2 linked regions of the Homo sapiens genome follow. The protein of the gene in region 2 interacts with the protein of the main gene of each other region in a biochemical or structural test. Each region holds a gene or a part of one and is shown on either strand. Other genes may lie near its edges.

Region 1 (7,294 bases), on a different chromosome or scaffold from region 2:
TTCTCTACAATAAAATATGATCAGTTTCTTCAAGAGAAGAAACTGCAATAAATGTTCTTTCTCCCTATCATGTAAAGTAGTGTAAGGTTTATTCTTATTTAAGTTTAATTTTCTATTTCAATCCAATGCCATGTTAAAAACTTACATTAATGGAATTATAAGAAACAAAGGCTAAAATGTACCAATACTTTCTCAGGAGACAAGTGTTTGACGAAACAAAACAAAAGGGGAAAACCCTCTAGTCTTAGGATACTATTGCTTTAAACTTGGTATCAGCCAGGTATTTCTTTGGTCTAACCCTGAAAAAGTACAAATTACACACATCCCCACACTTTCAAAATATGCCAAAGAATTATTTATTAACACAAGACTTACAGATCACAAAAGAGAGTGATACAGAAGAGCTGGAAAAGAAGTCATCAGAATAAGCATGCAGATCAGTATTTGCAGAGGAATATACTAAAGTAAATTTGAAGGCACATTCACACAGAAAATGTCTAAATTGAAAAAAAGACATCAGAAAAGCAGCCAAAAAAAAAAAAAGGTGCTAATTAAAATACAAAGATTTTCAATGTCAAAGAAGAGCTACTTTACAGATAGGTAGGTAGGTAGCTACAGAAGTCTTGCTAACCCTTTGAAAATGTCACAGATGAGGGTCAGCTCTTGCTGCCAATAAAACCATATGATTTTAATGACTGCACGTCAAGATGCTTCAGTGCCGCAGATTAAATTTAGTCAGGGGGAAAAAACAGCCTAGTTGAAATTATATGCAGCAAGGCCTCAAAGGGTTAAATGTAATAATACGCAGAGAAATCAGGCAATGTTATCAGTATTATCTACCTTCCATACAAATGATTATAGCAAGAGTTAAAAGAGACAGTATCCCCTTCAGAGTTAAGTTAGGGCTTCTAAACAGGATTAAGGTCCGCAGATAGCAATCTACCAGGTTTTATTCTCTCTTCATCAGCTCACTTCTTATTTCTCCAACAAGAAGTACCTTTAACCCTCAAACTAAGAGAGCAAGAGATACTGTGGTGAACATGAGGATAAAATAAAACTACATTACTTTGAATAAGTCCTTGCCATTTACCCTCTACAATACATTGATGCAGCAATTTTGCACAACAGCAATATAGCGCATTGGTCAGACATCAACCCCTTTTAACAACCGCTCTAAAGGGATACTGCTCCTTTCTGACAGGAGGTTTACAGATCAATGGGAGGAAACAATCTGCTTTTAAGAATATCCTCCAACTGAAGAGTTAGCTTGAACATTACAGGCTCCAAGCTGAGGATGTTCCAAACATACATAAAAGAACATGAGCACAGAAGATTATTTTAACAGGTCAGTAAGAACAAGCTTGGTCAAAAAAACCAACCTCCAAATAAAATGGGGGAAAAAAAAAGACACCCCAAACCCGGATTAGCCTCATTTCATAAAGACATCTACCTTGGCACTGTGAAAGAATATAGATTCACTTTCAGAAAAATAGTTTCTAATTAATAACTTCAGAGTCCAAAAGGCTAGTATACATGTTATGAGATTTTTAAATAAAAATCCAATATTGTTCAGAAAACAGAGCACTTTGCAACCAACTGCTGTGGTTCAAGCAGCTCATAAAAAAAAAAAACCAACAAAACAAAACCCACAATCACTCTATCAAACAAACAGCAGCAAAAAAATAAGAAAATTTCTGAGGAAAAGTACAAAAAAAAAAAAAAAGACAGAAAGTAGACAGTCAAGGGCACAGGAGCTCTTCAGACCGCCCACTGCATTTGAAAAATACCTTAGCAAGTAGCAACATGAAACATGCAATGTCTCTGCTAACTTGCTCCTGATTCAGCAGCCTGTTTAGCAATACCTACAACATTTCCATAACCAAAGGATGGATGCAATTTTGTTTTCCGACTTGCCAATTTGACATATGCAAAAGCTATAGGACTTTACAATTTCTGCCTGAATCTGTAAACTTGGAAGTGTCTCACGTGTCCCCCCTAGTTAGACAAAACCAAATCCTTCATATGCATAATACATTTTCTAGAATAATACAGTGATACTGAGATATTTCTCATTATTAAAAGGCCACAAAATAGGTTTATCTTTCTATATACATATCAAAAAACAAAACAAAAGAAAAACCAGGACACTTGGGAATCTAGTTTTTATGACAGAAGTTGAACTAGAGAGTAAATTGCTACATGTAAATCTACACAGAATTTAAAGAGGGCTCCCTAATAAGATGTTTTCAAACATTTTATCAGAAAGTTAGCAGTTACCCTATCCTAGCATCTACAGATTTGTTACAACTTAATATTTCCAGTAATAGAGTTAACACTGAAAACAGCTCCTGGATTCCACTGACAACACACACCCTCCTCTTTGCCAGGCCCTGACATACAGAACATTCATATATAAACTCTTTCCCTCTTCTTCTCTTAAAAGGATGTGGCAAACTGCACTACAAGTGGTTAGAAATTTTTACTTTCTTGACCTAACAAGAGTTAATTTCTGTAAATCAAACAGAATACTATACTGGCAGTTGCTGTGTATACCCAAGAGAAGAAAAAAGGAGAGGGAAACACTGATTTTACTCACAGAAATGAAGGAACACTGCCGGCACTGCAAAGGTCTTTATCAAATTTCTGGCAATGTGAGGTTCACTTAGCAGTGACTTTTTATGTGCCTCTAACACCAAGCTGGTGCTAGATTTCAAAAATAAAAATATCTTAGCTACCCAATCTAAGTTCCACAGTAGCCATAGTATCCATATCAAGTATCCATAGAATCAAATTTAACACTGCTTTAAGGAGACTGGCAATAAAGAGGTTGATTATTAGAGATTCATAAAGCTAAAGGGCCAGAGCCTTACTCATGTAAATCAACACCCGCAGAATCATCTTTGAAATCTACAACACCATCACCAGAGCAATCTCACCAATTCCTCACCTGCAGCAGGAGGATGCTGGCCACTAACTGTTGGTAAATCCAAAGAGCTATCAGACATGACATGCTTAAGATCTCCTCCCACATCAGCCAATTTCATGTCAAACTGAACAGAGAGTGCATCTTCAGAGTCCTCCTTGCCAACACTGCTGCCACCAATGGAAGGGAGATCTAAGGACTTCACTGATGCAGAGTCTTCTTTGGTGTGTCTGAAAGCCACTGCTTTCTCTCCCAGGGATTTGTCCGAGTTTATGGAAGAAAATTTACTGGAGTGGAAGTCAGCAAAATCATCATCACTTTTTCCTGAAGGAGTGTTATCTTTCAGGTCTTCAACACCTAGTCCAGACCCTTCCAGAGAAAGTTGTCTGAAGACATCGTACTTGGTAGACGCAGCAGTCGAGTTTTGTCCACCCTTCACTGTGCTGCCCACGTTGCTGGTTAGAGGAACAGGACTGGCTTCCTCTTTAAGGGCATCATATTTGTCATCCGGCTTTTGCTCAGATGAAATAGAGCTATTACTGAAAGCCATAAAATCTGCAAAGTCATCCTGCTCCCCAACAGGTGCTAGACCAGAATATTCCCCAAAAAGGCTGAATTCTCCAAAATCATCAGCCAAACTAGAAGTTTTTGTTGCTGCCAATGCTGTCATAGTAGCAGCAGAACCTGTTGACTGTGGTGTAGAAACTGATTTTGATGTGCTAAACACAGCTGAAAAAGACAATGGTTTCTCGCTGCTGCAATTAACTGAGGAAAACATATCTAGGTCTGCTAAGTTCAGAGGGTTTTTCACTTGTGTTTGTTGTTTCTGTTGTATAGTTCCTGAGGGGAAGGATGGTGGAAAAGTTTTGTCTTTTGTTGGTGGCTCTAGTGGTGATACACTATCGGCTGTTTTAAAATCGGTGAAACCATCATCAGTTCCTGCAGATCTGAATTCTGCAAAGCTTTCTCCTGAAAGAAAAAATACCACCAAACAAATGGGAATGCTGAACTGAAAACCATATAATACACAGTATATTAAACTGCAAGCATAATTTTACTGACTTTTCTCCACTGACTTGACATTACTTAATAATGTTTACATACTTTAAACCCTATCGAACTACACATTTATTTCCACACTGAAGTCTAGTGATACTGAAATAAATAGAAATCGAACTGAAAGTACCTGACGGTACCATTTTCATTTGCTCATGCTTTTAGTGTGGGATCTCTCTTAGCTCTAGATCCTACAACTGGCTAAAAGTACTCCTCTCAAGACTTTTTGTTCCCACAGCTAGCCAGCCAAGCAGACAATACAATAAGAAATAGGGCTAGAGGTTCTTGAAGAGAGGCATATTAAAACAGTGGCCCTTTAAAGATAAACATGTTACCCATTAAAAAAATCAGAGGTACCAATAAAGTATTATGAAAAATCCTACATCTAATATTCAGGATGTACAACACTTGGTTTAGCCAGGCACTTTAAGAATAACATTAGATACTATGTGGTCTTGCTCAAGTAAATGAAGGCATTAATTTGAAGGGAACTTTGATGAAAATTTTTGAAAAGGTATCTATTTATTTGCAAAGCATTCTAGGTGGGGCACATTGTAAAGCAGCTCCTCCCTATAGTCTCTAATAAGCTGAATCTCACAGAAAAAAAGTCCTTGAGCACTTGAGCTTTTCTAGAAATCAGCTGTCTCACTGTATCAATGAGCACTTATTTTTATTTATTAAAATTCAAAAGGATTTGAATAAATACCAACTCTATTATATAAAGTTTTAGAGGGTATGACTTAGACTTTAGTTTACATTATGCTACTCTGAGGATGGGGTAACTGACGGAATTGTTTATTTATTTATTTATTTTTTAAATAAAATTTCTTTTGCCCATGACACAGCTCTCAAGAGATCCTGAGAAACATGTGTCTCAGATTTGTTTATTTTTATATTCTGGTTAAATAGAGTGGGTACTTATGTACTTCTCATAAATAATTAAACAGACTCAGTTAAGACATTGATAAAAATTTAGGCCTATGATTCTTTTTTTTTTGAGACAGAGTTTCATTATTGTCGCCCAGGCTGGAGTACAATGGTGTGATCTCAGTTCACTGCAACCTCCACCTCCCAGGTTCAAGCGATTCTCCTGCCTCAGCCTCCCAAGTAGCTGGGATTACAGGCACCTGCCACCACGCCCGGCTAATTTTTGTATTTTTAGTAGAGACGGGGTTTCACCACGTCACGTAGGCTGGTTTTGAACTCCTGACCTCGGCTGATCCACCTGCCTCGGCCTCCCAAAGTGCTGGGATTACAGGCGTGAGCTACAGCACCCGGCCCAAGGCCTGTGATTCTTAAAAGGTTTCTATATTCTTTATTATCATAGTAATGTTATCATCACTCAGGTACAGCATCAGGATACAGATGATCTCAGTTTTCTAATAGCATCTGAAGGTCTACCATAAAATCCACTAGGCTATACCAGGTAATAAAAACCAGAGATAAACCAAATGTAAATATAGTTATGCCAAGGCCGAACACAGTGGCTCACACCTGTAATCCCAGCACTTTGGAAGACCAAGGAGGGTGTATCACTTGAGGCCAGGAGGAGTTCAAGACAAGCCTGGCCAACATGGAGAAATCCCATCTCTACTTAAAATACAGAAAAATTAGCTGGGCATGGAGGCACATGCCTGTAATCCCAGCTACTCGGGAGGCTGAGGCACAAGAATTGTTTGAACCTGGGAGGCGGAGCTTGCAGTGAGCCAAGATCCCACCGCTGCACTCCAGCCTGGGGGACAGAGAGAGATTCTGTCTCAAAAATAAAAATAAAAAAACAAATAAATATAGCTATACCAACCAACATCATTTATTATTTTAAAAAATGACTGCCATTTCTGGAGATTAAAATTAAGTAAATTAAAATATAAGCTTTAATTTCCTCACCCATTTTTAAAAATTACATTTTCCCCTAAAAATGACATATAAGAGCATATCAATAATAAAAATGTATTGAGAACCAAAATCCAATTCTTAAATTGGCATATAAAATAATGCAGGCTTAAAATATACTGTGCTTGGGCCAGGCACGGTGGCTCACGACTGTAATCCCTGCACTTTGGAAGGCCAAGGCGGGTGGGTCACCTGAGGTCTGGAGTTTGAGACCAGCCTGGCCAACATAGTGAAACCCCATCTCTACTAAAAATACAAAAAATTAGCTGGGTGTGGTGGCAGGTGCCTGTAATCCTAGCTACTTGGGAGGCTGAGGCAGGAGAATCGCTTGAACCCTGGAGACAGAGGTTGCAGTGAGCCGAGATTGTGCCATTGCACTCCAGCCTGGGCAACAAGAGCAAAACTCCGTATCAAAATAAATAAATAAATAAAATAAAAATAAAAATAAATTTAAAAAATAAAATATACTGTGCTTGTAACAAGATATGTACTTGGATATAGCAGATGAAAAAAAAAAAGCACCAAAAACAATACAAGCTAATTTTTCCTCCTAACCTGAGATAGTTAACCAATTCACCAGCATAATTCATCAACACCAAGGAATTCATCTAATAAGAGAGGAACAGCATTCAGATTTCCTGTAATTTATATTTGTAAGACATACCACTAGTAAAACTCAAGTCAATTTCACAAACTGACAGAAGATGTAAAACTTTTAAAAATCACCCTAGAATTTTAGATTAGTAGTATCACTGATTATACTTGTATTATTTCTGAAAATGTAGAGGTGATAAGCGGCCATTTTTATCACAGCCTAAATTTTTAATGTGTTGCTTTGAAATATCTGTGAAATTGACAAGTATTGCTTTGTTTGTTTGTTTGTTTTAATCACCACAGCAAACTACACTTACTGATGAATTGTAAACTTTTCCATTGGAAATGTAAGCTGGGTGAAAGGGCTAAAAGGAAATAAAAGCGGGTGAGTTTACAAAGGGAATTTGTTGGCAAATAAATTAGTCACAGTCAATGGAAGCTTGTCTATCAGAAGGCATATTAAGCATATTATTTCATGGTTAGATTTTTGGTTAATGTCTACATACTTGTAAGTTTCCCTCTCCGTCACTTTTTAGACTCCAAAAAATCTCAAAAGGGACCACTTTTTTGCTAAAATTTCAATAAAAATGTGTCATTTCTTTATACAGAACATTTCCTCATTTACTTTAATTTATGGCTTAAACTCTGGAGATGGAAAAAAGGAAACATTATTAAACTCTGTCATTCAGTAACCTAAGAAACCCACAGCTCTGAACAACACAATACTATAAGATTCTTCATAAATTCTAAGATACTAACGTACTTTGACGAAGTCAAGCCAATGTATTTTTTGAGTATAAAAAATATATCACACCATTTAGGAAAATA
Region 2 (5,917 bases):
ATCTCCTGTTATGTCTGTTTCATTCTTCATTTTCATTGCAGACCAGCTTTCTTGGTGATTCCTTCCTCATGGCAGAAAATGGCTACCTCTTATGTTCCAATTCTGGAACAGTAGAGTTCTAGACATATCTACATTCAGAATAAAAAACTGATAAGCCAGGAATGAGTCCACTATGGCCAGATGACATCCAGTACCAATGTGGACTTTAAGGACCCAAAGAAGTGGGGCTTTTGAGGAGTAGGTAGACATCCCTAAAGGATGTACAAGGATGTACGGGGTCATCTCATTTTTAATATTAGGAAGTTGTCTTCCTAGAAAAATAGAAAGATATAAACCAGATTTTAATAGAAGTTATTCATGGATGTAAAATTATGAGAATTTTGGTTATTTCTTTTGCTTATATTTTCTATAATTTATACTGAAATATACATTAATTTTATAAATTAAAAAAGTTAATTTAAAAAACTAAACTATTGCGCCATTATGACATAAAGCTAAGTGAGGGGAAAATAAGGTTTTTAAAAATCCATATTGCTTATATCTCTTAACTAAACAAAACACATATGCATAGAAAAAGAATGGAAGACAATAAAATATTAGCAGAGGTACCCCAAGATGACAGAATTAAGGATTTATTTTTATTTTCTCATGTATCACTTTCTGAATTTTTAATTGTTCTACAACACATTATGTATTGCTTTTATACTAGAAAAAAAGTGTGAGGGATGCATAGGCCCAGTGGGTTCAGTTTTTGTGCAGGAGACTAGAATACTGTAGATACCACAGTGATCACCAGATAAAAGACACTGATTTTTGGTGTTTTCCCCCATCCCCAAAATACCTGAATACTACTACAAACTGCCAACAGTAACAACTACTACAATCATGATTTATCTTGAGAATCACTGGCATACAAAATATTAAAAGTTGTGGAGGAATTCTAGAATTACATTTAAGTAAGCACTGAAAATAACTAGAATTTAAAAATAAAACTTGTATGGTATTATTCTACAAACTAGAACTGTTTTAATGTATAGAAGATAATATTCACAGTAATCTTATATTACTAGGTGGATGATTAACTATTTTCTGCTCCTATTACAGAAAAGATTAAATGGCTTTTAGTGTTAGGAGGGTTTCAGCTACACCATCAGCCATGTCAAGCCCAGAAAGATATGAACTGAAAAATAAATCAGGATTTGGACAAACACAAAGTTTAACACTCACTACATTGCCACATGATAGTTCCCATGTTCCCTTGCCATTTGAAACACGGCCAGCACTAATGAAAATTCTTTTTTTTTTTTCTTGAGATGGAGTCTCGCTCTGTCGCCCAGGCTGGAGTGCAGTGGAGAGATCTCGGCTCACTGCAAGCTCCGCCTCCCAGGTTCACGTCATTCTCCTGCCTCAGCCTCCCAAGTAGCTGGGACTACAGGCGCCCGCCACCATGCTCAGCTAATTTTTTTTTTGTATTTTTAGTAGAGATGGGGTTTCACCATGTTAGCCAGGATGGTTTCGATCTCCTGACCTCGTGATCCGCCCACCTTGGCCTCCCAAAGTGCTGGGATTACAGGCGTGAGCCACCACACCTGGCCAAAATCCTATACATTAAATGTTTGTCTTACCCAAACCCCAAAGTTAAATTGTAAATATAAAACCCACAGCGGGGGTGAGAAAACTGGAGAACAGTCTTTCTCTATTTTCCTACAATCTTCAAATAAGAGGTATCTGCTTATATAAGACAGGTTAGTGGCAATACCTGGCTTAGAAAGTTTCTAGATTTATTTCTAGCTCTCTACATACTGTGATAAAGTCCTAAAGTTTAAAAATACCCACCAATATTACAGGCATGCTGCTTTATAAAATATGCCCTAAAATTCTAGCCAAAATACTTCACTTTCTGTAATACTTAATATGTGAGATAAAACTTTTTAGCTCAATAAAAAAGTATTTAAAACAACTCATGTTTTAAACACATTAGTCTACTCTAAATAAATGTATACTATTGTACTTTAAAATGTATCAAAGTAAGGTGTTTTCTATTTTTTAACCATCCTCAATTTTTTTAAAATTAACCAATCTTATTTCATCTCTAAAGGGCTTAATCACATGAAATGAACAAATTCCTCTAAACATTTTCCTTAAGGAAAAACTGAAAGGAGATATAGTGAAATGGTATATGACAGCCATGGTAACTCTAAGGTATACATAAGCAGGGGAAAAAATGCTCAAAATGTAACAAATTCTGTATATAAACAGTCATGCCAAACACAGATTTGTACCAATAAGGATACTGAATTAGATGTTAACAACAGTGTTTTCAGAAAAAGATACAGCAATGAGTAAAAAGCACTATGCTATTACAAATGATTTACAGAAACAACTAATTAACCTAACATAAATCCCCTTAAAATGCAAACCATACATAATCTTAACATGAATTACAGAATAAAATATTTTCCTAGTAAATTAGGTGTAAAAATCCAAACTTGCTTTTTTAAATATAACACCCAGAAAATAAAGAATACTGTTCCTTTTTTAACATGTATTTCTCAAAATAAGATTCACCATGAACATTATTTTAGATATTTTTACATCTTCTTTAGCTAACCAAGTGAAAAATCCAATATACACAAATAGGTACTTTCATCAGTACATAAAACAGCAATAGGTAGCAAGGATAGAAATCAGAATACAAGTTCAATTGAATAAATACAATACTAGTACAGAGACACCCATTTTTAACCCACAATGAAAAATCTGAGCCATGAATAGGTTTTCCATTTTGAATCTAACTTCTAGATGATCTGTATTTTGACCTTAAAGGGGCCAAAATATTTAATATGGGTGAAGCTCATGTTCCATTACCTGTAAAGGTCTAATGCAACAGAAAAATGGTCATTTTACATTGGTTAGAATTTTTAACTAGGTCTTTCATATTATTTTGTTTAGCACATGACAGACTTATACACATATTTTAAAAAATCAAACATGGAATTTCTATATACATCAAACCTTTAACAATGTCTGTCTCTGAATTGCTATTATAGTGTTCAAAATTATACAAACAAACATCCAGTAAACAGCATTTTATTTTATGACACTCTGTGTTAATACAATAAATATACAAAACTTCCAACCCACTGAAACATGCAACATTAGAGGGACACATGGAGGGCATTTCTGTAGAACCATGACAGTCACCATGATGGCAGCGCAGTATTAGTTACTGACAAAATATACAAACATCTCTAGATAAATAATCCAAGTCCCAAATTACAAATCACTGAGTAATGACTTTCCGGTGTTCAAACTTTAGTTTGAAATAAAATTGCCATAATTTAATATTACAAAATGATAAATGACACGGATGACTGCTGTGTGAAGACCATTTTATGACTATGATTTCATGACTGTGATTTTAGTACTAAATATAGAACACTTAACAAATGCCAATCTTTTGCTGAGTGAAAATTTAACAATTTACTGAGAGAAAAGTAAATATAAGAATTTAAAGTTCCTTTCATACTTGATCATACTATAAGCATTGCCATCATTTCAATGCACATATATTTTTAAAAAACAATTTTCTCTCTCAAACTCATATTAAATAACTGGATTTTAAAACATTTTCCCCATCCACACAAAAAAAGATATGTGGGTTCTAATTATTCTTTGCTATTTAATAATGCTACCTTTGAAGATTTCTACATAATATAAACATTCCAATTCTGAAGCAAAGTATTTCAGCATTTTTCAAAAGTCTCTAATATATCTTTTGTTTGTAGTGTACAGGAAAAAATGGACTTGGGATATAAGTTAATGGTGAATATAGGTGCACTTGCTGTATTTTGTGGTTAATGTTTTGAATGTATGCAAAATCCACACTCAATAAAGCACACTGATAAAATAGATTTCCAATAAGACTACAGGCTCTGAAAAACAAACTGGCTAAGTTGGTTGAGAACATAGGTAGAAATTATCGCTGATTAGAAATATTTACAAAAAATAGCTTTAAATTCATACGCTGAAGAATAAAAGAAATGTCTTCCAAGTATACCTGATGTCAATAAGATCCCAAATAAATCAAATGTAAACACCATCTGGATGGATCTGTGTTACCTAGTGACATGCAGCGCTGCTTCATGGATAGTGAAAACTTGGCATCCCACCTCTAGCATAAAACTTTTTCTGTAACTACAGGTTTGGGGAGAATGAAAGTGATTTAACTATTTATGCCTATCTGATTTTTTAAAAAATAAGGATTTCCAGCCTCTAATATCACAATCCTTACTTAAAATCTAATTGAATAATCACTATCATTCTGCAATCTTAATTTAGTTAAAGACTTTCAAAACACAGCAGCATGACTTACAGATGTCTTTGAGTCATTTATTTAATCAGTGGTAAAATTGATTCAAAGGTTGAACCCAAGAATACTATAAGAATGAAGTTCTGTGCTGCATAGTAACAATTTTAACGTGATTATCTTAATGCAGTTAACTGTATTTATATTTTCTTGCTTGGTGCAAGTTAAATGCTTTTTTTTTTATTGCTGGAAATTTTAGATATATTCAGTCTGTCTCAAAAAGTGAAAGACAGGTGCATTTAGGGATTCAAGTATGTGAAAAAATGCCAGGGTCTTTTTATGTTTAATGCCACTGGAGATGAAAAGCTAAAAGGAAAATCCCTTAAATACTGTACAATCTTTTTAGACAACAGTTAGGCTAGCCTTTAATACCTCTGTTAAAAATCACACACACACATCCCCAAAAAAGAGCTGCCAGACACAATCTTAGTTGTAACCACAGAATATACCAAAGTTTTCATATAGCAAAATGTTACTATATGACTACCGAAATTTTTTTAAAAAGGAATTATTACCACTACTTTCTACTGCATTAACTACCTTCTCTTTTGGATAATGTACTGCATATTATATAAACTTCTTATATTGCACCCCCAAACTTTTTATTTAAAAGAAATTCTTGCAGAATATCATTTCTGTGATTCCATTAACCCCTGAATCCTACAACCATAAGCAGTACAGAAGCCAAAACACTAATTCTTTTAATATAAGAAATGTGGTGCCCATGCAAATTAGAGATTGTTATCAAAATATCAGCTATTCTAAAAAAAAGAAAAGAAAAAGATGACAAATTTTACATTATCTACTACAAAATGCACATAGGCTCTTCACTGGTGACTGAAACAGCTAAAAAGCAAGCCAATTTAAAATCCCTAAGTCTCTGCTGGCCTATTTCTTTCAATATAAATAGGGAAAAAGGAATGAAACATGGTTTACTTTTCCAATGTGCAATCCTTATCTCTAAAGATTCTTGAAAGAACTACTGCAGTTAGTATTAAATGCGTTTTTAATCATAAGTACCATTATTAATTTTCAGTGGGTCACCACTGAAATAATTCACTGAATGTCATCCCCCAAAAATATGGAGAATATTTATTTAGCATGTAATATTTTTTCTGCAAGGGGCACTGAAATATTAAGAAACTATTAGGTAAAGTAATAAGACAAGGAAGTTTTCCTGGTTTTAGCCCATGCACAAGTGAACAGGAAATATCCATGCTGTCTGTACTGTGTGTTTTGAACATAAAAATATTTGTAGAATACAGTAACTGGAGAAAAAGGTACAGTCAAAAGGTAACAGTGTATTGTTTGAAGATTCTTAAATCTGGTTACCCTTGAAAGCATTCTGAGCTGCACTAGATGCTGCAGTTGAAGCTGCATTTGCAGCTGCGGTCTGGACAGTTTTGTTGGACATCACACCTGTTGCAAACTCCTGTTGGGCCTTCTCAAAACTAGCACCTGTTGTGCGATATAGTCCATGTACCTACAGAGGCACAAAAAAGTGGGAGAAGGTAAGTAGCAACCTACGCATTCATTTCCAGCAGCTCT

The links.
Region 1: the proteins of SCAMP1 (region 2) and SYNRG form a complex in vitro, tested with the Homo sapiens proteins (one study listed by BioGRID).

Annotation. Positions count from the first base shown.
Region 1 is NC_000017.11:37,550,168-37,557,461, forward strand, and holds part of SYNRG (synergin gamma), read right to left. Parts: intron 3,893-7,294; coding exon 2,948-3,892; intron 1-2,947. UniProt on the Homo sapiens protein: Plays a role in endocytosis and/or membrane trafficking at the trans-Golgi network (TGN). May act by linking the adapter protein complex AP-1 to other proteins. Component of clathrin-coated vesicles.
Region 2 is NC_000005.10:78,475,439-78,481,355, reverse strand, and holds the end of SCAMP1 (secretory carrier-associated membrane protein 1), read right to left. Parts: intron 5,853-5,917; coding exon 5,688-5,852; 3' UTR 617-5,687; downstream 1-616. UniProt on the Homo sapiens protein: Functions in post-Golgi recycling pathways. Acts as a recycling carrier to the cell surface.